7 linked regions of the Homo sapiens genome follow. The protein of the gene in region 4 purifies or fractionates together with the protein of the main gene of each other region. This does not show direct contact. Each region holds a gene or a part of one and is shown on either strand. Other genes may lie near its edges. The genes, in order: SEC63, MTM1, RAP1A, SLC18A2, OGA, FUNDC2 and MBTPS2.

Evidence for each region.
Region 1: the proteins of SLC18A2 (region 4) and SEC63 purify together in Homo sapiens (affinity purification with mass spectrometry; one large-scale study listed by BioGRID and IntAct). This does not show direct contact.
Region 2: the proteins of SLC18A2 (region 4) and MTM1 purify together in Homo sapiens (affinity purification with mass spectrometry; one large-scale study listed by BioGRID and IntAct). This does not show direct contact.
Region 3: the proteins of SLC18A2 (region 4) and RAP1A purify together in Homo sapiens (affinity purification with mass spectrometry; one large-scale study listed by BioGRID and IntAct). This does not show direct contact.
Region 5: the proteins of SLC18A2 (region 4) and OGA purify together in Homo sapiens (co-immunoprecipitation; one large-scale study listed by IntAct). This does not show direct contact.
Region 6: the proteins of SLC18A2 (region 4) and FUNDC2 purify together in Homo sapiens (affinity purification with mass spectrometry; one large-scale study listed by BioGRID and IntAct). This does not show direct contact.
Region 7: the proteins of SLC18A2 (region 4) and MBTPS2 purify together in Homo sapiens (affinity purification with mass spectrometry; one large-scale study listed by BioGRID and IntAct). This does not show direct contact.

Annotation. Positions count from the first base shown.
Region 1 is NC_000006.12:107,905,198-107,909,708, reverse strand, and holds part of SEC63 (translocation protein SEC63 homolog), read left to right. Parts: intron 1-673; coding exon 674-782; intron 783-2,931; coding exon 2,932-3,026; intron 3,027-3,128; coding exon 3,129-3,261; intron 3,262-4,511. UniProt on the Homo sapiens protein: Mediates cotranslational and post-translational transport of certain precursor polypeptides across endoplasmic reticulum (ER). Proposed to play an auxiliary role in recognition of precursors with short and apolar signal peptides.
Region 2 is NC_000023.11:150,571,149-150,575,659, forward strand, and holds part of MTM1 (myotubularin), read left to right. Parts: intron 1-4,511. UniProt on the Homo sapiens protein: Lipid phosphatase which dephosphorylates phosphatidylinositol 3-monophosphate (PI3P) and phosphatidylinositol 3,5-bisphosphate (PI(3,5)P2). Has also been shown to dephosphorylate phosphotyrosine- and phosphoserine-containing peptides.
Region 3 is NC_000001.11:111,692,789-111,696,288, forward strand, and holds part of RAP1A (ras-related protein Rap-1A precursor), read left to right. Parts: intron 1-2,552; coding exon 2,553-2,621; intron 2,622-3,500. UniProt on the Homo sapiens protein: Counteracts the mitogenic function of Ras, at least partly because it can interact with Ras GAPs and RAF in a competitive manner. Together with ITGB1BP1, regulates KRIT1 localization to microtubules and membranes.
Region 4 is NC_000010.11:117,247,183-117,251,693, forward strand, and holds part of SLC18A2 (synaptic vesicular amine transporter), read left to right. Parts: intron 1-4,511. UniProt on the Homo sapiens protein: Electrogenic antiporter that exchanges one cationic monoamine with two intravesicular protons across the membrane of secretory and synaptic vesicles.
Region 5 is NC_000010.11:101,796,980-101,801,490, reverse strand, and holds part of OGA (protein O-GlcNAcase), read left to right. Parts: intron 1-1,090; coding exon 1,091-1,249; intron 1,250-2,035; coding exon 2,036-2,649; intron 2,650-3,336; coding exon 3,337-3,511; intron 3,512-4,511.
Region 6 is NC_000023.11:155,029,355-155,033,865, forward strand, and holds part of FUNDC2 (FUN14 domain-containing protein 2), read left to right. Parts: intron 1-4,048; coding exon 4,049-4,199; intron 4,200-4,511. UniProt on the Homo sapiens protein: Binds directly and specifically 1,2-Diacyl-sn-glycero-3-phospho-(1'-myo-inositol-3',4',5'-bisphosphate) (PIP3) leading to the recruitment of PIP3 to mitochondria and may play a role in the regulation of the platelet activation via AKT/GSK3B/cGMP signaling pathways.
Region 7 is NC_000023.11:21,838,198-21,842,416, forward strand, and holds the start of MBTPS2 (membrane-bound transcription factor site-2 protease), read left to right. Parts: upstream 1-1,419; 5' UTR 1,420-1,537; coding exon 1,538-1,612; intron 1,613-4,219. UniProt on the Homo sapiens protein: Zinc metalloprotease that mediates intramembrane proteolysis of proteins such as ATF6, ATF6B, SREBF1/SREBP1 and SREBF2/SREBP2.

The sequences.
Region 1 (4,511 bases), on a different chromosome or scaffold from region 4:
TCAAGTATTTATTGAAGACATGCTGTGTGTCAAGAACCAGCTTGGTGCTTATAGCAGTGGGTAGTTTTATCCCTTTTTGGTCTTTAAGGTATTTCTATCCAAAATGGTAAATGTTTTGATTATATATATGCAGTGACTTAGGTTGGTGTTTAGGCTTCAGACAGTATAAATATTTGCTAAAGAAATCACTTGAAATATGCAAGAAAGAGGTCCTTGTTGTAAGACTCAGGTATTTTTATTGTTTTATGAATATTTAGAAGATTTGACCATAAACATATTCTGCCTCAAACTTAACATTTATCAGGGTTTTGTTTTGCTTTTTTTTTTTTTTTGAGACAGAGTCTCCCTCTGTCACCTAGGATGGAGTGCAGTAGTATGATCATGGCTACTGCAGCCCTGACCTCCTGGACTCTAGCAATCTTCCCACCTCAGCTTCCTGAGCAGCTGGGACTAGAGGCATGTGCCACCATGCCCAGCTAATGTTTGCATTTTTCTTTTTCTTTTGTAGAGACAGGGTCTCACTATGTTGCCCAGGCTGGTCTCAAACTCCTGGGCTCAAGCAGTCCTCTCACCTCAGCCTCCCAAAGTGCTGGGATTACAGGAATGAGCCATCTCGCCCAGCCTATCGTAGTTTTTATACTTTCTTTCTTGTTTAATTTTTTTTGTGTTTTAGGGCTCTTGGTGGTATCGCTCAATACGCTATAGTGGAGACCAGATTCTAATACGCACAACACAGATTTATACATACTTTGTTTATAAAACCCGAAATATGGATATGAAACGTAAGTAAACTTTAAGTAACTTTGCTATTAATCACATTGTTTTGTGACTTATGTGGGGTTGATATATATTCCTTAACTCTATACTGTTGAGATTCTATTGTACAGTTTTATAAATAGTTAATTTATATAATTAAAGCTAGAGAAAAATGCCAGCACCCTTTGTCACATTTCTTAATTTATATTTTCATTATTCACATTTACTCATATATTTCATCAGAAATTTTACCATAATCCTTATGCGTGCAAATTTTGTAATTCTAGCTAACATTTATTATTTGTTGTATGCCAGACACTGCTAGTTACTGTATGTGTCTTGACTCATTTAATTTTTGCTGTGTTCTCGTAAGTGAGTGCTGTTTTACAGTACATCTTATAGATGAGGAAACTGAGGCACCGAAAAGTAACACTCTCAAGGATACACAGTAAGTGATATCCAGGATTGAACCCAGGCAGTCTGGTTCTTGAGCCTTAAACCATTATGTTATAGTGTATTAATTGTAGTAAAAATAAAAAGTCTTAGGTGTGTTGAAAGAAAACTAGTGCTAGAGTATTTCATTCCCAGTTCTTATTTAAAAATTTAAGAAAAAAAATACTATTTTCACTTTCTTTGATTATATAAAGCAAACTTTGCAGTTTATCCTTGGGAGATAGAGTGTTACCTTTCAGAATGATGGCTCTGCAAAAATCATAGCTGCTCCTCCATCCCTCTTTAAAAAAAAATAAAATAAAAGAATGTAAGTTTTGAATTGTGTCTCCGGGACCAAAATGGACTTTTCTGCATTTTGGATTTGGCAATTTTACTAATTTTCTTAGTAATGAGAGAGACTTCTCATGGTCATATATGACTGTGTGTGAACAGATTTTACATTTCTGAATGAGTTAATACTACTTTGCCTTATCGAAAATATTACTCTTCCTAAAGCTGGATTGAAATGTTAATACAGAAACTTACTCCCTTATGAAAATGTTTCATGTTTATAATTTTAAGTGTGCTTTTTGCCTCAATCATTTTGATTTCTGTTTCTTTTCTGAGGGTGGTATCCTTACACAGCTTTGTCAGAGAAGCATTGTTTAGCTGGTGGATTTCTTTACACATTCTAGGTTATTTTAGCTGTTTTAGGAACAGTTGTTATTAAGTAAACATTTGAGGGTAGTAATAGTAATAGCTCACACAAGTACTGTGCTTGCTGTGTGTCAGGCACATATGAAGAAGCTGAGATACACAGATATGAAGAATATTGTCCTAGGTCATTTAGCTAGGAAGTGACAAAATACCAAGGTCTGTGCACTTAACTTCTATACTATCCTGCCTTTTGTGAGTACATTACATGGATTTTTTTTTCTCTGAGGCAAAGTTTCTCTCATCTCCCAGGCTAGAGTACAATGGCACAATCTCAGCTCACCACAACGTCTGCCTCCTGGGTGCAAGCAATTCTCCTGCCTCAGCCTCCCGAGTAGCTGGGATTACAGGCGTGCACCACTATGCCTGGCTAATTTTTGTATTTTTAGTAGAGATGGGGTTTCACCATTTTGGCCAGCTTGGTCTCAAACTGGCTGGTCTCAAATTCCTGATCTTGTGATTTGCCTGCCTTAGCCTCCCAAAGTGCTGGGATTACAGGCGTGAGCCACCACTGGCCTGAGGGTTTTAATCATGTGTATTTCCACAAAATCCTCTTGGGTTCCATAATAAAATTTTTTTGGAAAATTATAATGCATATTAGGTTTACAAAAGGCCTTGAGAAGTCATGTAGTAAAGAAACCTTTAACTCTTGTTTACATTATTTTCAGCTTTATTTAATCATAGGGCCCCCTTTTTTCACGTGAATTATTAATACCACACAGAATACTGATGTTCTATAGAAAGTTTCTGTGGAACTTTCAGTGATTTTAATGCCTCCAGTTGCTTTGGTGTGCTTTATTTGATCTATACTTCTGTTCACTTGTGGTGGTTGATACTGTGTACATTTTAAAAAGCGAGATGTTACTTTTTTTATGGAAGAAATAAATACTTGTCAGTGGAGTTCAGATAATTTTTAGCATTGTGCATGTTTAGAAAAGTGCTTCACTTTCAAGTGAATTAAGTATCTCAGGAGGGGGAATTAATGAATGAGCATATTTATTTACCTTCATATTTCTTTTGTTTTGTTAGGTCTTATCATGGTTTTGGCTGGAGCTTCTGAATTTGATCCTCAGTATAATAAAGATGCCACAAGCAGACCAACGGATAATATTCTAATACCACAGGTTAGGCTAATTTCCCAAATCCCCCGATGAGCAGTTAAGTATTAAAGTGAATACTTTTTTTAAAAAAAGCGTGTTTTTGAATAATTATTTTATTTATTCTAGCTAATCAGAGAAATTGGCAGCATTAATTTAAAGAAGAATGAGCCTCCACTTACCTGCCCATATAGCCTGAAGGCCAGAGTTCTTTTACTGTCTCATCTTGCTAGAATGAAAATTCCTGAGACCCTTGAAGAAGGTATTTGTGATTCCGGTATCTACAGAGGTTTAGTGGGATGAAAGCAGCAGAATTAATTAGACTTAATGGTGTGTATTAGTTTGTTCTCGCATTGCTCTAAAGAAATACCTGAGGCTGGGTAATATATAAACAAAAGAGGTTTAATTGGCTCATTGTTCTGATGGCTGTACAGGAAGCATGGCTGGGGAGGCCTCAGGAAACTTTTATTCATGGCAGAAGGCAAAGCCAGAGCAGGCAAAGGCAGAGCAAGTGTCTTCACATGGCCAGAGCAGGAGGAAGAGAGAGATGGGGGAGATGCCACACGTTTTTAAACAACCAGGTCTTGTGAGAAGTGTATCTCGAGAACAGCACCAAAGGGAGAACTCCACCCCCCTGATCCAATCACCTTCCACCAGGCCCCACCTCCAGCATTGGGGATTACCATTCAACATGAGATTTGGGTGGGGACACAGACCCAAACCATAGCATGGTGGTGCGGTGTGTTTTGTTGCTGTTCTTTTTTGGCCAAATAATTGCTCAAGGACTTTTTAAAAAAGAAATGTATATGCTACATAATTACTTCACAAATGGTTTGAAGATCTAAGTAAGTCAGACGTTTTGGCAAGTGTTAAAATTTAGTGTTTCAAGGTGAGAGAATGCTCTGTATAAGAAATGTTTAGTTAATTGCAGATCATACAAAAGTTCCTAATAATTTTTTTAAAGGACTTTGTAAGTTTTTGGAGGGAGCAAAATGGATTTCACAACAACCAACACCTCTCACCTCCCCATCTACAAGCTTCCTCCGACAGTGGTTACCAATAATGTCTGTTTTATAGTTATTTAAAGCTTCATAAGTACTTGAAGCCATGTATTCTGCTTAAAAGAAAAGTAGTTGATGGAGGCAACAGTGTTTCCAGGGATGTCATTAATTATCTCTTTTTCACCGACATTATTTCAGTTAAAGTTTTAAAAGACAGTTACTACCTCTAGGAAATAAATGTTCTTTTTGAATGATATCCTACCATCCCCCACCTCCTTTAAGGCAGTAATGCAGTTAAATGCTTCCGAAAACAAGGCCATGTGACGCTTAGTAATTGGTGATAGGACAGGATGCTTATGGTGGAATGAAGGAGCACTATTTAGGCAATATCATTGGAGTTGCTTTGAAATACTCAATTAACTAGTAATTCTGTTGCTAATGTTCTGTACAGATACATAAGCATCTCCATTTTTACTTACCTGTAAGAAGCAGGAAACAAATCATTGTTGAG
Region 2 (4,511 bases), on a different chromosome or scaffold from region 4:
GGATTTCAAAGGCTGGAGTTTCTCATTTCTAAAGTTTATTCGATTTTGTAACAGAATAATAGATTGTTTTCATTATTCTTTAGTAATTTTCCTTTCCTGTTTTCGACCTCTTTGAAGTTCTGCTTTCATTATTTTCTAGTTTTCTAGTTCTTTATTTCCTTTTTGGCAGATGTGGGGGATAGGGACCGTCATTTGCCTAGAAGATTTTGACTCTGGATTGGGCAGCCTGCCCCAATTTGAATCCTGGACCTAATATTATCTGTGTGACTTTAGGCAAGGTACTTAACTCTGTGCTTTAGTTTCCTTATCTGTCAAATGAGAATAATAATAGTACCTTTCTCAAAGGGTTGCTGGAGGGACTGAGTGAATAATCTATGCTAAGTGCTTAGAAAAGTGTCTTGCATGTAGTAGACACTAAAGAAAAGCTGTTATTGACTTGAACGATATGGAACTCTTTTGTTTTTAAGAAAATACATTATTCTAGCTATGTCTTAATAAACTTTTGGAATCCAGTAGCTTGCTTTTCTCGACATTTCTCTGCATTTCCTTGTTGGCACGAGCTTTTGGTTCCAGGCGACGCTGGCAGCAGTGTCCTCCGTTCTTGCAGTGCTATATTCCCTTTACCATTTGGACTTAGAAATTTCTTGAGGCCAAATTTTGTTGCTACAAACAATAATAGAGCAAGAGAGGCCTTCTTCTAGTTTATCTGCCTTGAAAGTGAGAGTGTATCAGGAGACCCAGTAGGAGTTACTGAGTTAGGTCCCGTTGTCATCCTGTAGTTGGGGGAAGATTTTTCATTGGAAATCTTTGCAGTGTATTTTTCCACTGTGAGTACCACGACAGTCTCATCTTTTTCTTTTTAAGAATGTGGAGGCATCTCTTTAGATAATTGGCATTGTGTACTACTAGTGCTTTCTATTTCTACCAGAGGAACTATGGTAAATGAGCCTTTTGTTTGTGTGAGGTGGTAGAAAGCTTCCTGCATTTGGATTCCAGAAGCTGAGTTCAGGTCCCAGTTCTCTTCCTTAACTCTGTGTCACTGGACAAGTCATTTAACCTTGCTGCTAGTGGCTCTTCCATCTGTAAGATAGAGCTAATAAAACCTGCCCTGCCAAGTTTCCAGAGTTCGTCAGAGAATCAAATGTGCCTCAGAGCCCTTTGTAAAGTGTGCAGCATTATTATTATTGCATGAATGTGTTGTATAAGCAGTTGCTATTTGGAGAACTGGTATAAGAGGGCAGTTGTCCTTCCTGTTCTTGGACTGTCTTCCCTGTGGCTGTAGGTGTGGCCTCTCTGCCTCAATCTCCCTCTTCTGTCATCATTAAAATATGCAGGTATTTATATTGCCTCTTTCATAGGGGCCTGATGTCACTGGTATACCATAACAAGTTTTTGTTTTATGTATTCCTAAAATGGTAGTAGTGTATAACCAACAATCACAGGGTGACAGCAAGGCAAGCTCAGCCTCAGGGAATGTTGCCTGCCTCTCCCAAGTGTCTCAGAATGGAAGACTTTCTCTTTTCCAATCGAGACCTGACCGCAGCTCCTGAGTCCATACTAGACTGGATGCTTGTGCTTCTGGGGTTAGAATAAAAAGCGATCCAGGCTCTGGGGAAGAGATGGTTGATAGCTCCCCAGGTCTGTACCATCCTCCTTGCTGGAACAGGGCAGGCTCCTGAGTGATAGGGCAGGCGCCTGAGCGGCCTTTTCTCGTTAAAGTTGTTTCTCAGTATCTTGAAATGTCTCTGTAAGTTGCACTTTGCAATGAATTTCATGTACTTGTATTAGTTTAGTATTGCTGTTCCTTGACTGTTTGTCTTAATAGGTAACTCCTACATATTTCAGTATGTTTTTCATTTTCTATGATTGTAATAAAAAGGGCGAGGTTGGAGATATTTTTTCTGATTGTCTGAAACCTAAGATGGTCCTATACACACAGTAGACATTTAGTAAACATTATTTAACTTGAACTAGACAAAGGAGGCCAGCTTAGAATTGTTCACACATGATCATTGTAACCAATTCTGTTGCATGTCTAGAGATCATGCTCCCTGTCTGCCAGATGAAATGGAGCTCATGCTTAACCTTTCTTGCCGTGGTCAAACAGCAAATGAGAAAGTTCTTTGAATCAGTCATTGTCTTGCCACCCTTTTCTTCTCAGCTTCTTGATTTTTGAACTCTTGGCATGAGCAGTTTGAGTACAGATTAGTTTTTGCTTTGCTTGCTAGTATGTTTGGGGTGGGAAGTTGAAGGGGGAATAATTGAAAGTAAAAATAAAAGTTGTTTGTAACTCATTCATCTCTTATCCCCTTGCCTCCAAACCCTGACAGCACACAGCAATGCCCTTTCTTTAGCATGTGATAATTGTTATATTTTGATAGCATGTCCTTGAACTTTTTTGTGAGAAGGAAGCATTGTTTATTTCCCAGAGCCTTTTGCTTGGAATGTAATGGATTGCTACATCAGTTATCCTTTCCCCTTCTTGGGAGATGTAGAGGCAGAGGTGGGTTATAAGGTAGATTCTTAGCATCAGGTGGTGGTGCTTTAAATTCCCTTATATGACTTTTAAATTGCTTTATGGCCCTGAGACAACTTAGGTGGGGATTTAGGAGAATAGGTACTATGCTGGAATCCAGCAGGCCTGGAATTGGCCCAAGCTCTTTTACTGAAATAAGAAATGTACCTGCCTGCACAGCAGTGACCCTTGGCCATGACATGAAATATACCTGCGTGTCAGTACTGTTTGTGGATAACAGTAAGAAGGAAAGTTTGCACTTGGTTTCAGTGAGACCCCAGGAGGGCGCTGCGGTTAACACGGGTTATGTGACTAGGAGGATATGAGAAACCCCAGCCAGTATTCCATTTTGAGTTTCCTGGTTCTGAGGTGTTCCTTGCCCATGTCAGTGGTTCTGGATCTGGGAGAGAAAGCACAGGTCCCTACTGCCCTAACAAAGGGAGGACTGACCGTTGGTGCTGGCCCCCACCTCTTTGAATCCCTTGCTTGGAGAGAGAACTGATTTTTTCAAAGTTGAAGCTGAGTCTAACTCTGCTGGACATGTCCTTCCTTCACTATATCAACTCTAATAATCTCCCCAGAGATTCCCATTACGCCTATGGCATGAAACAGGTTTTTCTTATTGATGGGGATTGCCCTTGCTCCCCGGGAGCTGGTGAAACAGGCAGAATTTCAAGCCCCATCCTCACCCACTGAGACCCACCACCGACTCCTTAAGCTGAATGTGAATTTTAATGAGGCCCCCGGGTGATTTTGCAGTAAATTAAAGTTCGGAAATAGTCTAATAGTACCAGCTCATATCCTGGCTTCCCAGTCCTTTAAGATAGCGCTAGCCAATAGAGAATGTGTAATTTAAAATTTTCTAGTAGCCACATTGAACAAGTAAAGAAACAGGTGAAATCAATTTTAATATATTTAACACAGCATGTGCGAAATATTTCAATGTGTCATCGACATAATAATGACACGTTTTTCCTTTTTTGGTACTAAATTGTCAATCAGGTGTATATTTTACATTATAGCCCATCTCAGTTTGGATTAGCCACAGTTCAAGTGTTCAGGAGCTACAGCTGTGGAGAGATACATTTGGTCTTGATTTGCTGAGGATTTCATCAGATTCACTGTCAATGCTTAAATAGCCGCCTCAGTCATAATTTACATTAATATTAGGTGTAATCTTTGCCAAGTCCTTAGCCCAGTGCTTTTACATCAGGTCTCATATGAATCCTCACAGCATCGCTTTGAGGTAAAAACTGTTAAGATCCCCACTGAGTTTCAGAGAGGTTAGGTCTAAGCTGAAGCGTTTAGGAAGCAGTAATATCAGGATTTGAACCCAGGCAAGTCTGACTTCTGGGTTTGCAGCCTCCGCTGCAACTTCCTGCAGCTCTCATGACTACAGGGTTTTTTCTCGGTTTCAGTTTTTAGTTTTGTAAGCCATATTAAAAAGGCACCATTGGTATATGTATGAAATGCAATCTTCTTTCTTGAGGGGAACTTCAAAGAACTCGAGGAATGCCTCTTTCTTCTCTGGCTTTTCAGAGCTGGTGCAGAGTCCCTAAACAGAAGTTTCCTCATAGAGGGAATACCACGGACCAGGAGATTGCCTTTCCTGCTGCTCATTAGAATCACTTGGGGAGTTTTACATACTTGCTGCCCTGGGCATCGCCCACAGATATTCGAACTTAATTGATCTGGGCTGAGACTCTTGACATCTGCATTTTTAAAAAGTGGTCCCAGCGTGCAGCACTACCAGGAGCGCTTCTCCAACTTCATTGCCTTATGAATCACCTGGACTTCGAGTTGAAACACAGATTCTGACTCAGTGGTTCCGGGATGGGCCCGGAGAGCTTTTTCTTCTCATTTCCATCAAGCTCCCAGGTGATGCCAACAGTGTTGCTCTGTGGCTCCCACTCAGAGCAGCAAGCCACATCATAATCACCTGAGGGGTTTTTGCAAAACTACAAATTCCTGGCATCATGCCTGGAGTTTCTGATTC
Region 3 (3,500 bases), on a different chromosome or scaffold from region 4:
GCTGAGGGTAGATACCTGTAAAATCATAGAGTATCTCTTCAAGGTTAAATAAGCTATGAATAACATCAGTTACTTTCTTGGGAGTAGGATTGGATAGCTGGGAACAAGGGTGGTAGATAAGCTTAGTTATCACTGCATAGCCTTTTGTGCCTTTTTGAATTTAGTCCTATGTCCATGAATTACCTTTTCAAAAATAATTTTGGAAAAAGTCCATAGGAGTGAAAGAGGTCTAGGGAGATACTAGAGAGAGAAGAGCAGAGCCCAGGACTGAGCTCTGAGTACCTCTCAACCTTTAGAAAGTAGATAGGATTGGAGGATCTAGCATAGAAGAAGGTGTCTTTACTTGATTCCTCAAAAGTCAAGTAAAAAAGAGGAAAGAGATGATCAGAGAGCATAGAGGCAGTTGGACATGATAAAGGAAGCAGCTTTAGTCAGGTCATGTTGCCATAACCATAATGGGGTGGGTTGAAGATTAAATGAGAGCTGAGGAAATGGAATATAGACATTTGAAGAAGCTTGATTATGAGAGGGGACAGAGAATGGGGGCAGAAGCTGGAGAGATATTGGGGTTAAGGGAGGTTTTTGTTTTTGTTTTAGAATTGGAGATAGTAAAGCATATTTGTATGCTGGGGGCAATTCCTCTCCACTGGAGAGGAAAATAAGGATACAGGAGAGGGAAAGAGGAGATGATCCAGTACAAAAACCTGAGGAATAAAATTATAATCTATGTGAATGAATGAATGAGATGTCCCTGAAAATTAAGACAGAGGATAAGATTCAGAGGAGTAGTCAAACATTACTTTTAGTAAGAAAGAAATGAGAAACGTTGGATTGTTTTGCATTTTTGCAAGTCTTATTAATGTCTGGCTTATAGAAGGCACATGGGCTCTTTTGCCTGCTTCTGTATCCAGTCTCTTTCAATAGCACATGTTCTATACCCTTTGGAAGATTCCACTGTAAACTTATGAGAGAAGAAGAAGAGTACCTCTTAGAATACATCTTAGTATTGTTAGGAAGATAGTTTGACCTTAGGGAGCCTCTGCCTTGGACCATATTTTGAGACTCTCTGCTCTAGCCTAAAGCATATTAGGAAGCTGTATTAGACTGCCTTTTTTTTTTTTTTAAATCTTGAATCAGCATCTTGCCCTGGAGTGCAGTGGCGTGATCATGGCTCACTGCATCTTCAACCTCCTACACTTAAGCAATCCTCCCACCTTAGCTACCCAAGTAGCTGGGACTACAGGTGCATGCCACCACACCTGGTTAAATTTTTAAATTTTTTGTAGAGACAGTCTCACTATGTTGCCCAGGTTGGTTTCAAATTCCTGAGCTCAAGCAATCCTCCTGCCTTGGCCTCCTAAAGTGCTAGGAGTACAGCATGAGCCACTGCATCCAGCGTAGACTGCTTTGTATATTTAAATTATGTGTCGTACTTAGAAGATGAGGTGATTAAATCCTTGATAAAAATCATGATTAAGGTTTTTGGTGTGATTATATCTTGAGTTGCCTTTGAATAATAGAAGCTTAGTAGGAGAAAGAAGTTTGTTTACTATATTTGAGTTAATCTCTTTAGCTCAAGCTAAAATAGTATATCAAATATTCCTCTGAGTAATTTAAGTGTAGATGACCTCAGTCCACATTCTTACCCTTGCTTTTTAGGCAATAATGTACCAGACCCTGTTTTAAAGTTACCTAGGAAATATCTTAAAACCGTCTTCTGTACTTTTTTCACTTACTGAATGATAAATACGTATTTTCTAGTATGTGCTTTTGGATGCCTTTAAAAGTTGATAATATCTGAAAAAGATGAATGGGCAATATTTTCCAATGGAAAAAGTAAGGCTTTGGAATCAGGAAGATGTATGTTTGAATCTCAGCTGGCAAATAGGAAGAATAACTATTTCTGGGACAAATGTGAAATTTGAATGTGGTTATAAATTAAAAGTGACTAGCTTAATGTCTGGAACATAATAGACATTCAGTAAGTTTAAATTTCCCTTTCTCTTTTCCACCACAATTTAGAAAGGCTTTAACAAATTTACAAGATGCTGCTTGAGGTCCAGCTACCTGGGAGGCTGAGGCGGGAGGATCTCTTGAGTTCAGGAGTTCAAGGCCAGCCCAGGCAACATAGCAAAGACCCTGTGTTTAAAAAAAAATTAGAACCTTTGTCACTCCATTAAGGGCAGAGGGCATGGGATAAAAGTTACTATAGATATATAAAGGGGCAATAGGAGTTTAAATATTGATAATTTTTCATGTTTTAATTAGTTCAGATATGTTATTTGTATCCTTGTATATTAAGACTTAATGTAATTAACAGTGTATTATCAGTATTGATGACAGTTTTTAACATGACTACCTCCTTTCATAATAAATGTACTCTTAGTTATGGATGTATCCTTATATTGAAAGAATTAATAATATACTTTACATTTACGTGTTTACCCAGAATTTTCACATAATTTCAATTAATCATTATAATTTGTAGGTTAAGTAACATTCAAAGGAGTTTTCCTTTAATTTTTTAATATTTCTCTTTTTTTTTCCCCCAGACAGTTCAGTTTGTTCAGGGAATTTTTGTTGAAAAATATGACCCAACGATAGAAGATTCCTACAGAAAGGTAAAATGTGAAACTTGTACACACATGCTTACAAGTAGTTCCTTATGATGTTAAAATTTGATCTGTAGATTTGCTTTTTGAAAATAGTTTTGAGAAATAATACAAATATTGTGCATCTGTTTTTAAAAGTTTCATCAAGACAGAACATTTCTTAACAGAATACTACTTTGATATTCAGAGCTCTATGTTCTGTTACTGATTAGTGACTTGTTCCTTAATGTGGACATTTTCCTGGTGGGGAATGTTGCCACATATGAAAAAATTGCATATAAATAGTAGGTGTGTTTTCAACTTACTCTTTTGTTACCAACAATTAAGACCACCTTTATGCTTGAAGTTATCCAGTGACTGAACATTTTTATTTTTGTTTAGTTTTATAAGTTTAAAGATATCTTTAGACTACCAAAAAATTAGAGTCTGTGTAATACTATAATTGGGTTATATGCCATACATTTGTCAAAACCCATAGAATGTACCATGCCAAAAGAAAATCCTAATGTAAACTGTGGACTCTTGGTGATAACGATGTGTTCATGTGGGTTCATCAGTTGTAACAAATGTACCACTCTGGTGCAGGATGTTGATGGTGGGGTGAGGCTATGCATTTGTGGTGGCAAGGAGTATGTGGGAAATCTCTGCACCTTCCCCTCAGTTTTGCTGTGAAACTAAAACTGCTCTAATAAAGTCTATTTAAAAGGGAAAAAAAATTAGGTACTTGGTCTTGACAAAAAATATTCTGTAGAAGACCAGCCAGAGTTGTGGAAAATTTTCAGTATTTTCTATGTCAAATATATTGGGTGGGGTGGAGGTTATAAAAGGCTAGTAGCCAAGAATATTTTTTAAAAAGATTAAACTTTAATAGGAAAGGATTGCTTTTGA
Region 4 (4,511 bases):
TGTGCCAATCACATCCTCCATGAGCAAGATGTATGACTCAAGTCTTCAGTGTTGTAAACAAATGTGTTTAAAGGCTTTTTAAAATTGGTTAATATGTTTCTGATTAAAGAGTAGTTAAAAATATGGAGCATCAGAGCTTGCAGAGACTTTTCCTGAAAGCTTTTGGGCCAGTCCTAGCATTTTATAGGCAAAGGAGTTTGCAGTTCAGGAGGAGAAAGCATTTACCACAACAGTGGCAGGACTGTAGCCACATGTTCCGACTGTCCCATTTCAAGCTTTGTTCTTCCCCGCTTCCTGTTCTTCCCACCTGCTTACAATTATACAGCTTGTACCTTTAGCTACTAGAAATAAAGAATGCAGCTCAAAATCTGTCTTTCTTGCACTGACTTGGGCTCTTCCTGGTTGTACCAGGCAGAACTGCTGGAGACCCAGTGAGTTGCTGATTTTGCTACTTTTAATCAATGAGCAGAGAGTTTAGAAAAGATCAGCCTGATTCCTGTGGACATGGAACCTCCCTGGTCCCTGAAATATTCAGTCTTTTTCCAGTCCCTGATGTGAACTGGTCCAGCCTCGTGCATCCCTAAAGATGTGTGGGGAAAGCTTCCTGTAGTCAGGCTGGGCAGAGCTATTCTTTTCCAAAGCTGCTTGTTTTAACTGAAGTGGGACCCACTCTGAATCGAGACATTCTACACCACACCACACCATAACTGGAATCCTCTATTCACAGTCGTGATGGTGCCATGTGTGTGGCTTTTGTGGGTAGGAGTCACAAAATGTAGGCCGCCTGTTTATTTATTTATTTATTTAGACAGGGTCTTGCTCTATTGCCCAGGCTGGAGTGCAGTGGGGCTATCTCGGCTCACTGCAACCTCTACCTCCCAGGTTCAAGCAATTCTCCTGCCTCAGCCTCCTGAGTAGCTGAGACTACATGCCACCATGCCTGGCTAATTTTTTTTGTATTTTAGTAGAGATGGGGTTTCAGCATTTGGCCAGGCTGATCTCGAACTCCTGACCTCAAGTGATCCTCCTGCCTCAGCCTCTCAAAGTGCTGGGATTACAGGCGTGAGCCACCATGCCCGGCCCTGTCTGTTTTTTTTAAATATTCGATAAGTTCTCACACCAAACCCTGAAAATATAGAGTAACAATTCTTGGGTTCATTTAACTGCTAATAGGATGCACATTCTTCCTGTTTCATTTGTTATTCAGATCCTGTATTTCTGCTGAAAATATATGACCAGTTAGGTGGCAAAAACCTTTGATTTGGGTGTGTGTAGTGATGACCTGGCCAATAGCACACTTTCCAAGAAAGCCTGAGGTTGCTGGATTGACCTGATTTCCATGTTGGAACCTCTTGCCTCCTATTTTATAATTTTGGCTGAACTATTCATTTCATGATTGCAGTTGTGTGCAGGTGGTACCAGAAATTATACTAGTGATACTTGGTCATCATTTGGTCTAAGAAGCAAATTTTAGATATATATGTCCATAAGAGGAAAGTTCCAGGCACATGAACAATGGGACAACACGTTTACATTTCTCTCTTCCCTCAGTCAGGTAACGATATGGCATTGTGGTCTTGCTTAGCATAAGGTTGAAATAATAGTTGCATCTTCAGAACCAAAAGATATTCCACACCAAACGACTGGCTTGGGAAAGAGTTAACTTCATTGCTGGGGACCGTTTCCCTTGCTTCCTTCTTAGCTTGTCATTGTCTCAGTGATCTGCTTTTTATCAAGCCAGCGTCAATGGCTTAATTTATTTCCATAGTTACTTAGTATATTTGAAAGCAGTTCTTTTTGCTTGCAAATCTTAGCTAACATCTGAACGACAAGGAGGAAGCCACAGGGCATGAAATCTCTACGAAATCTACCATGGTTTTATTTTATTTTTTTGCTAGCTTCAGCCAGTGGGTCTGAAGTGGGCTGTGTAGGAACAAGCAGTGACCTTTTCAGCTTCTCTATGGACAGGGAAACCGGCTGTTCTGAGAAGAGATCTCCCATCCTGCATGTGGTTAGGATGGTAGGGAGGGCTTGATGAGTCTTTGCTTCTGAAATCAGAGGAAACTGGCTGTGGAATTAGAACATTCCTAGGAGAAGCAAAAGCTCTGTTAAGCTATGTGTCAGAGAACAGGGCTCACGCCCAGGAAAGTGAGAAGTCCGTGCCCCCTGGAATTCTCTGGTAGCTGAAAAAGACAAGCAGAACCTAAGAATTTTGACAAGCGGAATCGAAGAATTTTATTTACTAAATGATTGACAAACCTCCTACTATATCCAGGCAAATTGAAAATATCATTCCATTTACTGACATTCATTTACTGCACACCTTTTAGGAGTGTGTAGGGATCACTGGAAGGGAGCTGTTGTCTCTCGTTGCATCTGGTGATAGTTTGCACCCTTCGGGGCTCTGTAGTCTGTATGCTTCTTGTAATTTACCACGGTAGAGGAAACTGTGGTTTTAGCAATCATGAGAAGAGAGCTTCCATTAGTCTCTATGGCAAGGATAAGCTAATTATTAACACTAGAGAAGTATTGTCTTCATTGACCATTTAGGGACAGATGGGGTTTCTCCAATGACTAAGTATATATAATTAACATAACTTTTATTGTTTTACATGTTTTTCTAGGGATTCATTATGTGATTTTTAGTCTTACTCAAATTGGATTAACTGCTTCGTGATGCTCTGTAGAGGATGACCGTGGGCCAGTATGACATTTGGCTAAAGGTTTGCTGAATCAGATCTGGCTCTGCTTAGCAATACTTTAATTGAGAAGGCCCTGAATTGAGACAAGGGGGGCAACTCAGACACAGATTGTGACTAATGTCAGTTGAGTTTCTGTCTGTTTAGGAGATACTGTGGGGAAGCAGAAAGGGTTTGGTCCTTCTGCCCACCACTCAATGACTAGGGACGCTGGACGACTCTCCTTCTATGGTGGGTGCCCGAGGGGCCAGAAGAGTTTGAGAACGGAGACCCAGGAGCTTCCCAGGGAGTCTTCTTTGCCTTGAAGCCGAGCTCTGGGGAAAAATGATGCCCAGCGCTTACCACTGAGCAGCCCATGCAGTGGCTTGGCCTGTGTTGAAAGTGCAGGCACAGGTGTGTCCGGTACTGAGGAGGCGGCAACATGAGCCTGGTTGTATCTGAAGCCATTGGCTTGCTCTGCAGCCATGGGTGAGCCACTCTGTCTCTGAACCTCAGCTTTCTCATCTAAGGTGAGGGTTTGGACTGGCTAGCCCTTGAGTTTCCTTCTAGCTGTGATATTCGTTTATTCCATACGTGCATTGTTAAAATCCCAAAGAAAATTAAAAAGAAAAACAGTAGCTGCAGTGTTTCTAAAGAAAACACAGTACCTCAAATGGTAAAAAGAACCCTCTGTAGGCACAAACGCTGTGGTTTTCAGTGAAACTGTGCACTCTCCATCCCATGTGCTCCAGCGTCCCCACCCAGGTGCACATCAGCAGGGCCTAGCACATGTTAACACACTCAGGGTATGCCCGTAGCCTTGAATTTGGGGCAAGTAATTCACCTCCCCGAGCCTCAGTGTTGATCCTCTGAAAAATGGATAAAACCAGCTACCCTCCCTTGGAATCTCAGGCCACCCAGCATGCTGGTTCCCTGCCTACAGTCGTGGGAATGTCTGAGTCTTCAGGTAGGGAGGGACCTCAGTGGCTTCCAGCCCACCACAGCTGTGCCCTGATGGGTTACCTGGAATACTGGCTGGACTGAACAGTGGGCACAGTATGGCTGGTGGTTTGGGGGCCACAGACAAGGGTTGCCACATTTTATTGAGTTTTGTCCTGAAACCACCCAGTGTTTCTGCCTACAGTCTGGGAAAGGGCCACAGATGTCTTATTTGCCTTCAGGGATGTCCCTGCAGCCTGAAGGGTTCCATATTAGAGCCTTATAAATAGCCAAAATGAAGAACTGGTGAAACAAGAGTGAAGCCCCTAATTCCAATAGCTTTGATACGTATTGGTACTTCAACAACTAGATTTTCCAAATATATATTGAACAGAGGGAGAAGCCTGTGTTTATTCCAGGACAGCCCGGAAGATTGTCATATGCCCGTTCTTTCATGGGACAAACTGTAGTTGCTGAAAATAAATTGCCTGTGAGTTCTCCTCTCTGAGCCTCCTGGACGTTTCCTGATTCAGTATCCTGCAGTGCCGTGTGAGCCCCCGGTGTTGGGTTTCTTTTGTCCACATGAATAAGGGGTACAGAGAATCAGCTCTGGGTGGGCTGAGACAGAAGAAGCTGTCACCCGATGGCCATCTGAACTGCAGGTCAGAATCCTGGCATCTTCTCTGGTTTACCCAATTTGCTTGGGGCCCCACTTTGTGAATTACAAGCTCATCTCTGTTCACAGCAGGGGAATCTTTGCATGGTTTGTGGGAGGGGACTGACTGTCTGGGAATCTGTCATGCTTGTGAGTTACTCTCTGTATTTTTGGTATTTGGTTTCTGGATACAGGTGAAGCAGTTAAAAAATATTTGAATATGGTCAAGAGAACTTTTG
Region 5 (4,511 bases), about 15 Mb from region 4:
TTAATTTTCTCTACCACTATCCTGGCTCAGAGCTTTGTTGCCTTATGTGTGCTAATTTGTGGGTCTCTGTCGATTATCTCTTTTTTTTTTTTTTTTCTGAGACGGAGTCTTGCTCTTGTTGCTCAGGCTGGAGTGCAATGGCCCGATCTCAGCTCACTGCAACCTTTGACACCTGGGTTCAAGCAGTTCTCCTGCCTCAGCCTCCCGAGTAGCTGGGATTACAGGTGCCTGCCACCACGTCTGGCTAATTTTTTGTATTTTTAGTAGAGATGGGGTTTTACCATGTTGGCCAGGCTAGTCTCAAACTGCAGACCTCAGGTGATTTGCCCGCCTCAGCCTCCCAAAGTGCTGAGATTACAGGCATGAGCCACCATGCCTGGCCTCTTCTTTTTCCCTCAGCGCCTTTATTAATGAAGTTACAGTCGGTTGTAGTGGCTCACGCTTGTAATCTCAGCACTTTGGGAGGCCCAGGTGGGCAGATCACAAGGTCGAGTTCGAGACCAGTCTGGCCAACATGGTGAAACCCCATCTTCACGAATAATAGAAAAATTAGCTGGGCATGGTGGCATGCGCCTGTAGTCCCAGCTACTGGGGAGGCTCAGGTGGGAGAATTGCTTGAACCTGTGAGGCGGAGGTTGTAGTGAGCCAAGATCCTGCCACTGCACTCCAGCCTGGGTGATGGGGTGAGACTCCATCTCAAAAAAAAAAAAAAAAAAAAAGAAGTTACAAGGCCCTGAAGGCTATGCAATGTTTTCTTCATACGAAAAGCATGGTACTTTTGACCTTGACTTCCCAACAATTAGTACTCAGTAGACGGTTAAGATTGACTCTTCCACTGATACTAAAATTTATATTTCTTATTTCAATTGAGATTTTACATTTAACATTACGTTTAGGTTACTATCCTATATGAAGTGGTTTGGTGAAGGGTCTTGCTTTTATTTGAATTTTTATGTTTAAGGTTTGTTCTCATTCTGTTCTTTGTTTCTGTGGTTATACTGTGAAAACTAGTTGCATTTATTCTTCTCACTTGTCAGAAGGCTTTTGTAATCAAAACTATTTTTGTGCTTTTTTATTTTATTTTTTGCAGCTGACAGTGAAGATAGTACTGTGTCCATCCAGATAAAATTAGAAAATGAAGGCAGTGATGAAGATATTGAAACTGATGTACTCTATAGTCCACAGATGGCTCTAAAGCTAGCATTAACAGAATGGTTGCAAGAGTTTGGTGTGCCTCATCAATACAGCAGTGAGTTTGGCCATTCTTTGTTAAGGGGGTTAGATCACATAGTTGAGTCACAAAGTAAAGAACACTGTCTCCCGGGTGTGGTGGCTCACACCTGTAATCTCAGCACTTTGGGAGGCCGAGGCAGGCGGATCACCTGAGGTCAGGAGTTCGAGACCAGCCTGGCCAACATAGTGAAACCTTGTCCCTACTAAAAATACAAAGATTAGCCGGGCGTGGTGGCATGCGCCTGTCGTCCCACCTACTTGGGAGGCTGAGGCAGGACAGTCGCCTCAACCTGGGAGGCAGAGGTTGCAGTGAGCCAAGATTGAGCCACTGTACTCCAGCCTGGGTGACAGAGCGAGACTCTGTCTCAAAAAAAAGAACACTGTCATGTGCCTTACCTTATGCCCACTAAGCAAAGTGAAATTAAATGAAATTGGGGGATCTAGAGAATAAGGATTTTTAAATCTTACTTTTGGTCTTAAATATTAGCTTTTATTTTGATGGAATGCTAATTTCTCTTAAAAACATATTTTTTGAAGTAATTTAAGGGTTTTTAGACACAAATTTTCAAAAGAGAATGTAATAGTAGATGTTGGCATGTTTACCTCCCAACGCCCTTCCATTCCTGCATCCCTAGTAGTATAGAGAAATCTCATTTTTCTTAGAGGTCAAATTAATTTGGATCTAAAATTGAGGTTCCACTTAACAAATATGATAAAGCATCTTTCTGAATCTAATGTGTTCTATCTCTAATTCTGATTATCTGTGTGACCATTTTATTTATACATTTATTTATTTTTGTAGGTAGGCAAGTTGCACACAGTGGAGCTAAAGCAAGTGTAGTTGATGGGACTCCTTTAGTTGCAGCACCCTCTTTAAATGCCACAACCGTAGTAACAACAGTTTATCAGGAGCCCATTATGAGCCAGGGAGCAGCCTTGAGTGGTGAGCCTACTACTCTGACCAAGGAAGAAGAAAAGAAACAGCCTGATGAAGAACCCATGGACATGGTGGTGGAAAAACAAGAAGAAACGGACCACAAGAATGACAATCAAATACTGAGTGAAATTGTTGAAGCGAAAATGGCAGAGGAATTGAAACCAATGGACACTGATAAAGAGAGCATAGCTGAATCAAAATCCCCAGAGATGTCCATGCAAGAAGATTGTATTAGTGACATTGCCCCCATGCAAACTGATGAACAGACAAACAAGGAGCAGTTTGTGCCAGGTCCAAATGAAAAGCCTTTGTACACTGCGGAACCAGTGACCCTGGAGGATTTGCAGTTACTTGCTGATCTATTCTACCTTCCTTACGAGCATGGACCCAAAGGAGCACAGATGTTACGGGAATTTCAATGGCTTCGAGCAAATAGTAGTGTTGTCAGTGTCAATTGCAAAGGAAAAGACTCTGAAAAAGTGAGTATGTTTAATGTACCTGCTGCTGAAGCCTGGGTGGTTCCCCATACTGGTAATGTGGAAAAGGTTCTTAAATGAGTACACTGTAACTGACAGAAAATTGACCATGTTTTAGAATATGTTCTTTAGGCCGGTTATGATGGCTCATGCCTGTAGTCCCAGAACTTTGGGAGGCAGAGGCGGGCAGATCACCTGAGGTCAGGAGTTTGAGATCAGCCTGGCCAACATGGTGAAACCCCATCTGTACTAAAAATACAAAAATTAGCCGGGCATGGTGACGGGCACCTGTAATCCCAGCTACTCAGGAGGCTGAGGCAGGAGAATCGCTTGAAGAACCCGGGAGGCGGAGTTTGCAGTGAGCTGAGATCGTGCCATTGTACTCCAGCCTGGGTGACGAGAGGGAAACTGTCTCAAAAAAAAAAAAAAAAAAAAAGTATGTTCTTTACAGTGGATGTGGACTCTACTAAATCTGGTACCTTCAGTTTCATAGTTTGCCCTTCTAGTTAAGAATGAGGAAAGGTCATTATTTTAGGAATATTTGTCAGTTTGGGGAGACACAAAATGATACTTTAATGGTTAAGATAAATTGCCAGTACCTGACAACATAAGCAGCTTAATGTGTAACTGTGTCTCAGATTATTTTGTTAAGCTTACAGTTTTTTGAGTCTTTTTATTGATCTTCAATAGATTGAAGAATGGCGGTCACGAGCAGCCAAGTTTGAAGAGATGTGTGGACTAGTGATGGGAATGTTCACTCGGCTCTCCAATTGTGCCAACAGGACAATTCTTTATGACATGTACTCCTATGTTTGGGATATCAAGAGTATAATGTCTATGGTGAAGTCTTTTGTACAGTGGTTAGGTAGGTGCACCAGGAATAATCTCTTCTCCTCAAATATATTGTCCCTTTAAAAAAAATTATCCCACAGGGAGAAAAACATTTAGGGAATTGGCACATTTCCAAGTCTCTTCAATTCGTTGCCTAGGTTTCTTTCAAAAATAGGCATTATTGAAGACTTGAGATGCAAGTCTTAGTAAATACATCAAGCACATTAATTTTTCTCCCTTGGGCTAATTCAGCATAAGTATCTTAAAAGTATGTTAGAAAGTACTGACTTTAACTTGCTCTGACTGAATGCTTTCTGGATGGAACCCTGTATACCACTTTTATCTGATTTGGAGATGAGACACTATGAAATGTGACTCCACAAGCTTTCTGCTGCTTGCTGTGTCTTGATAACATTAATGCTATGTTTAACAGAACAATTGCTGAAATGACCTAAAGGGCCTGGCAAGAGGAAGCCATCCTCCCAGCCCTGTGCGCATGCGAGCTTTAGTGTAAGGCTATTCTGGTGCTATTCAGTATTATTTCACGTGGCTTTTTCTTTATCCTTCTACCAAGTATTGGTTTTACCAGGGGATAGAAATTGTAATCCCCTAAACATCTCTGCTACATTAAATGGACTTTTGTATGTCTCCTTTGAACACTGATTTTTTTTTTTTAAATTGTCAAACTTGGTAAAAAGCACCAGCATGGCCAAGTTTCTCTAGGGACTTCATTTCATTTTCAGGTTTTCAATCCAGCTATAAGGAATATGTAATGGACTTATATACAGCACACAGCAGGCAGCAAGGCTGACTGACATGTCATAGTTTTCATAGTAGTCACAAATACTATGATGGGTTTCATGGTCTTGGTTGTGAAATAGATATCTGAAACACCGTGAGCTTAGAATAAAAAGTAGTAGTGAGATTTTCCACTTTCTGCCTGTATACCTTTGAGCTCTTAAATATTTAAAAAAAAAAAAAAAAAGTTTCCCTGTGATACAACTAATTAGCTACTAAAAGTAGAGTCTCAGATT
Region 6 (4,511 bases), on a different chromosome or scaffold from region 4:
ATGAAGTTTTGGAGTAATTTGTAGTACAGCCGAAGTAACTGGAACACTGCTGGGTTTTTTTGTATCTTCATATGAATTTTAGAACCAGTTTGTCAATTACATAAAAACCTACTTTTTTGCCGGGCGTGGTGGCTCACTCCTGTAATCCCAGCACTTTGGGAGGCTGAGGCAGGCGGATCACCTGAGGTCGGGAGTTTGAGATCAGCCTGACCAACATGGAGAAACCCTGTCTCTACTAAAAATACAAAAAATTAGCCAGGCGTGGTGGTGCATGCCTGTAATCCCAGCTACTTGGGAGGCTGAGGCAGGAGAATCACTTGAACCTGGGAGGAGGAGGTTGTGGTGAGCCGAGATTGTCATTGCACTCCAGCCTGGGCAAAAAGAGCAAAACTCTATCTCAAAAAAAAAAAAAAAAAGAAAAAAGAAAAAACCTACTTTTTAATTGAGATTGTATTGAATATATAGATCAATATATGGAGAGAATGAACATCTTAAAAATATTGAGTCTTGCAAAACATAAACAGTATATCACTGTTATTTTAGGTCATCTTCAATTTCTTGGCAGTGTTTTGTAGTTTGCAGTGTTTTCTAGTTTACAGTGAACAGGTCTTGTGCATCTTTCATTGAATTTACTACAACATAATTTTTGCAATTAAAATTATTTTGTTTTCCAATTCATCATTTCTAATACACAAAAATTCAAATGACTTTTTAATATTGGTCTTATAATGTGTGACCTTGCTTCTGGTACCTTTTTGTAGATTTTTCTGGGTTTTCTATATACACCGTTATATTATCTGCCAATGAAGACAGAATTATTGTTGTACCTCCTTTCTAATCTCTTTGACTTTTATTTCTTTTCTTTTGTTGCACTGGCTAGGAACTCCAGTACAGTGCTGGGCGAGGTGGCTCACACTTGTAATCCCAGCACTTTGGGAGGCTAAGGAGGGAGGATCACTTGGGGCCAGGAGTTCCAGACCAGCCTAGGCAACAAAGTGAGACCTCCTGTCTACAAAAAAAAAAAAAAAAAAAAAAAAATCAGTTGGTCATAGTGGTGCACAGCTGTAGTCCAGCTACTGGGGAGGCTGAGGTGGGAGGATTGCTTGAGCCCAGAAGTTTGAAGTTGCAGTAATCTGTGATAGTGCCACTGCACTCCAATGTGGGTGATAGAGTGAGACCCTGTCTCAAAACAAAACAAAAAACAGTTGAATAGATTTTAGGGAAAGAAAAGTGTTCCATATTTCACCATTAAGTATGATGTTAGTTGTATATTTTTCATAGATGTCCTATATCAGATTGAAGAAATCCCTTTCTATTCCTATTTTCTACTTTTTTTTTTTTTTTTTTTGAGATGGAGTTTCGCTCTTGTTGCCCAGGAAAATGGGCAGTGGTCTGATCTCGGCTCACTGCAACCTCCGCCTCCCAGGTTCAAGCAATTCTCCCATCTCAGCCTCCTGAGTAGCTGGGATTACAGGCGCCTGCCACTATGCCCGGCTAATTTTTGGTATTTTTAGTAGAGACGGGGTTTTACCATGTTGGCCAGGCTGGTCTCGAACTCCTGACCTCAGGTGATCCACCCGCCTCGGCCTCCCAAAGTGCTTGGATTATAGGCATGAGCCACCACGCCCAGCCCCTATTTTCTACTTTTTATTCTGATTTTTTTCTTTGATTTTAAAGTATAAAATTTCTGTAATTATTATTTTTTTACAGTAAGTATTCATTTAGATTTATCCACCTATTTGCCCATTCCAGTGTCTCATTCCTTTCTGCATTTCCATATTTCCATGTGGCATCATTTCTTGTCGGCCTGAATAACTTTTGTGTACCTCTTTGAATATTACTTCTATCCCATTCTTTCTAATCTTCTGGAACTCCAATTACATATATGTTTAATCTTTTGAGCAGTTTTTGATCATTGTTATTTGCTTACTTCAGCATCTTGATCATCACTGGTTCTGTTTCTGTTTCTGTTTCTTTTTCTTTTTTCTTTTTGGGACTGAGTCTCGCTGTGTCACCCATGCTGGAGTGCAGTGGTGCGATCCTTGGCTCACTGCAACCTTCGCTACCCGCGTTCAAGTGATTTTCCTGTCCCAGCCTCCCGAGTAGCTGGGACTACAGGCACATGCCACCACGCCCAGCTAATTTTTGTATTTTTAGTAGAAACAGGGTTTCACCATGTTGGCCAGGCTGGTCTTGAACTCCAGACTTCAAGTGATCCGTCCCCCAGGCTTTCCAAAGTGCTGGGATACAGGCGTGAGCCACCGTGCCTGGCCTGCTTCTATTTCTTTTATTTAAACAAATTTTGTTTCCTTTATATGGCTTTGCCTTTGCATGGGTAGTAGTCATTTTCTATTGTTTGTTACATTATGTGTGAAAAGATTGTACACACTCCATGCCAGATGAAGTTGATCATTTGAGGTCAATTTTACAGTAAACAGCTTTGAATAGTACATTGCTGACATTTCATATCAGACATTTCTTAGTGCGGTGTGTTTCCAGGGAAACAGGGCTGGGTATAGTAGGGGAGCCTGACATTATCTTCCCACAGAGAAAGGGATTGACATTTTGTTAAGTCTTTCTCCATGCTTGGGCAAATCATTTAACTTTGGAACCTTCATTTCATTTTTTTTTTTTTTCTGAGACGGAGTTTCACTCTTGTTGCCCAGGCTGGAGTGAAGTGGCGCGATCTCGGCTCACTGCCACCTCCACCTCCCCGGTTCCAGTGATTCTCCTGCCTCAGCCTCCCAAGTAGCTGTGATTACAGGCGCATGCCACCATGCCCAGCTAATTTTTGTAGTTTTAGTAGAGACGAGGTTTCACCATGTTGGCCAGGCTGGCCTCAAACTCCTGACCTCAGGTGATCTGCCCACCTTGGCCTCCCAAGGTGTTGGGATTACAGGCGTGAGCCACCACGCCTGGTGCCTTCTTTTTTTTTTTTTTTTTTTTTTTGAGATGGAGTCTCATTCTTGTTGCGCAGGCTAGAGTGCAGTGGTGCGATCTTGGCTCACCGCAACCTCTGCCCCTCAGGTTCAAGTGATTCTCCTCCCGAGTAGCTAGGATTACAGGCATGTGCCACCACCCCCGGCTAATTTTGTATTTTTAGTAGAGATGGGGTTTTTCCATGCTGGTCAGGTTGGTCTTGAACTCCCGACCTCAGGTGATCCACCTGCCTCCGGCCTCCCAAAGTGCTGGGATTACAGGTGTGAGCCACCATGCCTGGCCTTCATTTCTTAATTATAAAATTGAGTTAATAAGTAGTACCTACCTTATTCTGTGGATTAATTAGATGTACATGATTAATGTTTAGCACATTGCCTGGTAAATAGTAAGAGCTCAATTAAACATTACCCTCTCATCTTCATTATCACTGGAGATCCACGTAGTACTTAGAAAATTTGTGGATTACTGAATAGCATTGAGCTACTTCTGAAGAGAAGGGGCAAATTTGTTTCATTTGGGATGCATTACTGGCAGTTTTTTATAGGTCTTTTTGGATTTATTTATTTATTTGAGATGGAGTCTTGCTCTGTTGCCCAGGCTGGAGTGCAGCGGCACTATCTCGGCTCACTGCAACCTTTGCTTCCTGGGTTCAAGCAATTCTTTTGCCTTAGCCTCCTGAGTAGCTGGGATTACAGGTGCCTGCCACCACGCCTGGCTAATTTTTGTATTTGTAGTAGAGATGGGGTTTTGCCATTTTGGCCAGACTGGTTTCGATCTCCTGACCTCAGGTGATTCGCCCACCTCGGCCTCCCAAAGTGCTGGGATTACAGGCGTGAGCCACCGCGCCCAGCCTTTTTTGTTATTTTTAAATTTGAGAGGACAAACTAGAGGACTAATTTGAGATTTTCTAGGTTTTTCCCTGTAATATAGACATTAGTATTTGCTGATTTTAGTCTGATTTTCCAAAATTGCAACTTAGAATAAATTTACTATTTAAAATAGAATATTTGGAGGTTTCTTATTACATTTATGTCTGTTTCTTTAAATATCTCAATCTAGTTAGGTATAAAAGTAAATATTTTCTTATTTAACGTATTACTTCTTGTAGGAAACTTTGAGGGAAATTTTGAGTCACTGGACCTTGCGGAATTTGCTAAGAAGCAGCCATGGTGGCGTAAGCTGTTCGGGCAGGAATCTGGACCTTCAGCAGAAAAGTATAGCGTGGCAACCCAGCTGTTCATTGGAGGTGTCACTGGATGGTAAGTGATGTGAAAGATGTCCACTGTCTTTTGTGCATGATTTAGTATTGCAGTTATAGGTACCATCATCTCCTTTAACCAGTGAAAACACATTGGCTTCTGTGAAATTGGTCACTTAATGTGGAGCATGTATCTAAACATCATCTTAAAGTACCATTTAATGGTTACACATAATGATTGTTTCCTATATGCCAGGTTCTGTTTGAAGTATTTACATAGATATCTCATTTCCTTCTCACAACTCTGGAATTAGTACTGTTATTTTCTATCCTCATTTTATAGAAACTGAGGCTCAGAAAGGTTAGTTTGCCC
Region 7 (4,219 bases), on a different chromosome or scaffold from region 4:
TTCAGAAATTATTAAAGCTTAAAACAGCACTAAGTCTTTTGGGATACTTGTATATGGAAAACTGTGGAGTAACAGGGTGCTTGAATACAAACTTTTATAATTTACACCCAGCTATGTCCAAAGAAAACGGAAATAATTTATAACAACACATACACACACAAATAGGCAAAGATATGTAAAACAGTCATAAGCTGTCTTGAAGCTGGAGAAACATGTCCCTAAGTGAGTAAAACTTTAGGAAAAGCAGGGAGAATGAGGCAAATTAGTAGCAATATTTGTAATATAGGTTTCTGGTATTATTGTATATTTTCACTTGGAAGGGGGTTGAGGATACATTTTTATTTGGGATACTTGTTCTTGAGATAGTATTATGTTCTCAATATTTTGGTATTAGCATTATTATAGCTAATGATGCTTTTCCAGAAAAGTTGAAACAAATAACTTTTAAAGATGCACATAAATAGAACGTAAAAAAACCCCAATAAATAGTTTTCTTTTCTCTTAGAGATTATCTAGTTCAGTGGTTCTCAACCTTGGCTGCACAGTGCAATGACTTGAGGAGCTTAAAAAGTATAAATGCTTGGGTCCCACTGAGCATCTGATTTAATTGGTCGAGGATACAGAACGGGCATCGGGAATTTTAAAAGACCTTGGTGATCCTAAAGTGCAGGTAAGGTTGAGAACTGCTGCTCTAGTTCAATATATAATCAGGTATACATTAACGTTAAAATGTGTAGGTGTTCAGAGTTCTGATTTTTAACCATAGCACCATCTCAAATATTATAAAAGGTTGAAAAAAGAGCCTAATTTAATCAACATGGATAAATTTCAAAAAGCATGTTGAACGATACAAGCCAGACACAAAGAGTACTTATTGCTTTCTATTTACATAAAGTTAAAAATAATCAGAACAGGGGGAGGGGCTACTGACTAGGAAGGGACGCAAGAAGGAAATTCCTGAGAGGGAAATTTTCTCCATTTTGATTAGGGTACACGTATATATATATATATATATATTTATCAAAACTCACAGAAATGGACAATTGAGCTCTGTATGTATGATTTCATTACATGTAAATTTACACTTCAGTAAAAAGGATAAACAATTAAATCTGGATATCTATGACAGGGTCGGGGAGGGAGAGATTATTACTTCAGACGACCCCAAATCCTCATGGGTTAAAAGAAACAGCAAACCCCTGACCAGAACTGGCGAGAATGGAGAGTAGACAGCAGGGAGGGCCAAAGCCTAAGAAATCGCTACAAGACTAGATGCCGAGTTCGAACTACTGCCTGGACGGCAGCGCCCGAGCGCCCGCAAAAATAAGCCCCCGTGCCATTTCCGGTACTAGCAAATCCTCCTGTATGTCCCCACTGGAAGAGTCCGGTGGGAAACCGTGCCACCGCAAGGAAGGAGCCGGCGGTAGCTTGGTTCCTGAGCGGATGCTGGGGCTGTAAGGCGCGCGCGGTCAGCTGTTGGCGGTGCAGGGAGGAGGACGCCGGGGCTCGCCTTCCCTCCTCTGCCGCCGCTGCCGCCATGATTCCGGTGTCGCTGGTGGTGGTGGTGGTGGGTGGCTGGACTGTCGTCTACCTGACCGACTTGGTGCTGAAGGTGAGGGCCTTGGGCCTAAGGTCCAAGCCCGCGGTGCCCATGGCCGGAGCGCAAGGCCTTCTTTTCTCTTCCCCTGCCTGGCGCCTCCCGGGCTGGACGGTGCCCACGTGCGACAGTCCGCGTGGTGGATCGGCCCGGTGGAGTAAATAAAACATTGCCGGCCGCGGGAGGGTTGTGGCGGCCTGCGCGGCTGCCACTGTCGCAGTGCGGGGCAGTGCAGGCCCTTCAGCCTTCGGGTCCTGCCCGGGAGGCGCCAGTGGTGGGATCGGGAGGGCCGGGGCCCTGCCAGACCCAGCAGCTGCAGTGCAGCAGGGAGGAAAAGAAAACGTCTGCTTAGTAAAGACAGTGCTTTCCCTTATTGTTTTTAAGTTCAAAACGCTCTAGAGACTCAGATATTGGAATGAATCTAAATCAAGTCGTGATTGAAATCAGTAGTCTCAAATTTTTAAATGCATATGATCATCTGGTTTGCGGTCAAAATGCAGATTCCGATTCAGCAGGTCTGCGGCAAGGCCTAAAATTCTGCATTTCTAACCAGTTCCCAAGTGCTACTGATGCTGCCAGATCACAGAGTGTACTTCAAAGTAGCACACTCAAATAGCAAGGATTTACATAACCAGTTTCTAACTACTTGAATTCTGATTTACACGCTGCACCCCACTTCTTCACACTAACCAGATACCCTGGGTGCACGGTCCATTTTCCAGTTATTTGAGAAGGGTAGCAAAAAATCAGGAAGAGTCGTCTGACCACATGCTTCAGGCAAGCTTTTGGAATTGAGTACTGGGGGGTAGGGGATGGGGAAGAGTAACTATATATGTGGAATAAGATCATATAAATTCTCAAGTGTTTAATAAAAATTCCAGTTATGGATAGCAAAATCTTCATGTTATGAATACCATTTAAAATAGAAAACCATAGTATTGCATGTTTTAGCTTTAACAATAAAATGAAATGAGACTTTTCCTTCTATCATTTAAACTTGTAAAGTGCAGGAGGTTACATAGCGTAGTCCTTAGATCCAGGGCTGGGCTTCTAGCCAATGTGACCTTGGGAAAATTGCTATCTGTGCCTTGGTTTCTCATCTTTAAATAGAGATAATAGTAAGGATCTCCTAAGATTACAGAGAGAATTACATTAGTGTATCCACATAAAGTCTCGCTCCTCAACTTGAGGTTCAAGGACCAGTAGCACTTGCATCATTTCGGAGCTTGTTAGAAATGCAGAATCCCAGGCCTCACCCCTGACCTAGGGAATCCGAATCTGCATCTTAGCAAGATCCCAGGTGACTCCTCTGCACCTGTTTGTGTTTGAAAAGCACTGATGTGGCCGGTCACAGTGGCTCACACCTGTAATCCCAGCACTTTGGGGGAGGCTGAGGTGGGAGGATTGCCTGAGTCCAGGAGTTTGAGACCAGCCTGGGCAATATAGTGAGACTTTATCTCTACAAAAAATTTAAAAGTTAGCCAACCATGGTGGTGCATGCCTGTAGTCCCAGCTACTCTGGAGGCTGAGGTAGGAGGATCTCTTGAGTCTGAGAGTCAGAGGTTAACAATGAAACAAGATCGTGCCACTGCACTTTGGCCTGGGTGACAGAGCAAGACCCTGTCTCAAAAGAAAAAGCACTGATTTAAAGTACTTGGCATAGTGGTTAACGTGTCATAAGCAATACAGGCCACAATGATTTTGTTGTTTGAAAAAGCCACATGAGCCAGGCATGGTGGTGCAGCCTGTAGTCCCAGCTACTTGGGAGGAAGAGGCGGGAGGATCGCTTGAGGCCAGGAGTTCCAGGCCAGCCTGAGCAACATAGTAAGACACACACACAAAGCCACATGATTTCTTCATGTTGCATATGTGAAAAAAATCTAAAATAAAAAGAACTTTTACAGTCCCTAGTCACAAGTGTGTGAGGTGACCAAGATGTCACTGGTTTCAGTAACAACCCCTAGCTCCTTAAGAATGCACCAACCTCTGAGCAAAAGACCTAACGCCTACTCAGAGTATCTGCCTGGGAAATGGAGAGACCTCAACTTTTAGGAGCCTGCACCTTTAGTTTCTCTGCCTCCAGCTTGGTCTGCTGATCCACCCTGGGCTTTTCTAGGATTTCTGCATAGACATCTGTTAGAGAAGTTGTGTCACTCCTTTTCCAAGTCTTGGAAAACAAGTACACTTAAAATTTAACTACCTGAAGACTGAGAGCAGATAATACTACAGATCCAAAGCAAACAGCTACCTATATTCAGACTATGGTCATTTTTTAAGACTATGATAGGGCTAAGATTTCCTTCTTGGACAGATAAGTTTCTCACATGGGTGGGCATGAATATGACAATACTTACTGTACTTACTGTGTCAGGTATATAACACAGCCTTATGTCATCCAAAATCCTATATTAGTCAAGGACTTCAAACTTCCCTAAAGGTAAAACTCTTGTTGGGGCTGTGTATAAGCCCCTATCCCCACAACCCCAGAGAATTTAAGGGACATTATTGAGCCCAAGATGGCTTTAGATAAGTTTTTTACTTTTTACATGATCGAGGTTGGCCTAACTTCTTAGAGTTGTTGCTCAGAAGAAGAAAGCAAACACTGATCGCAACTGTCCCTTC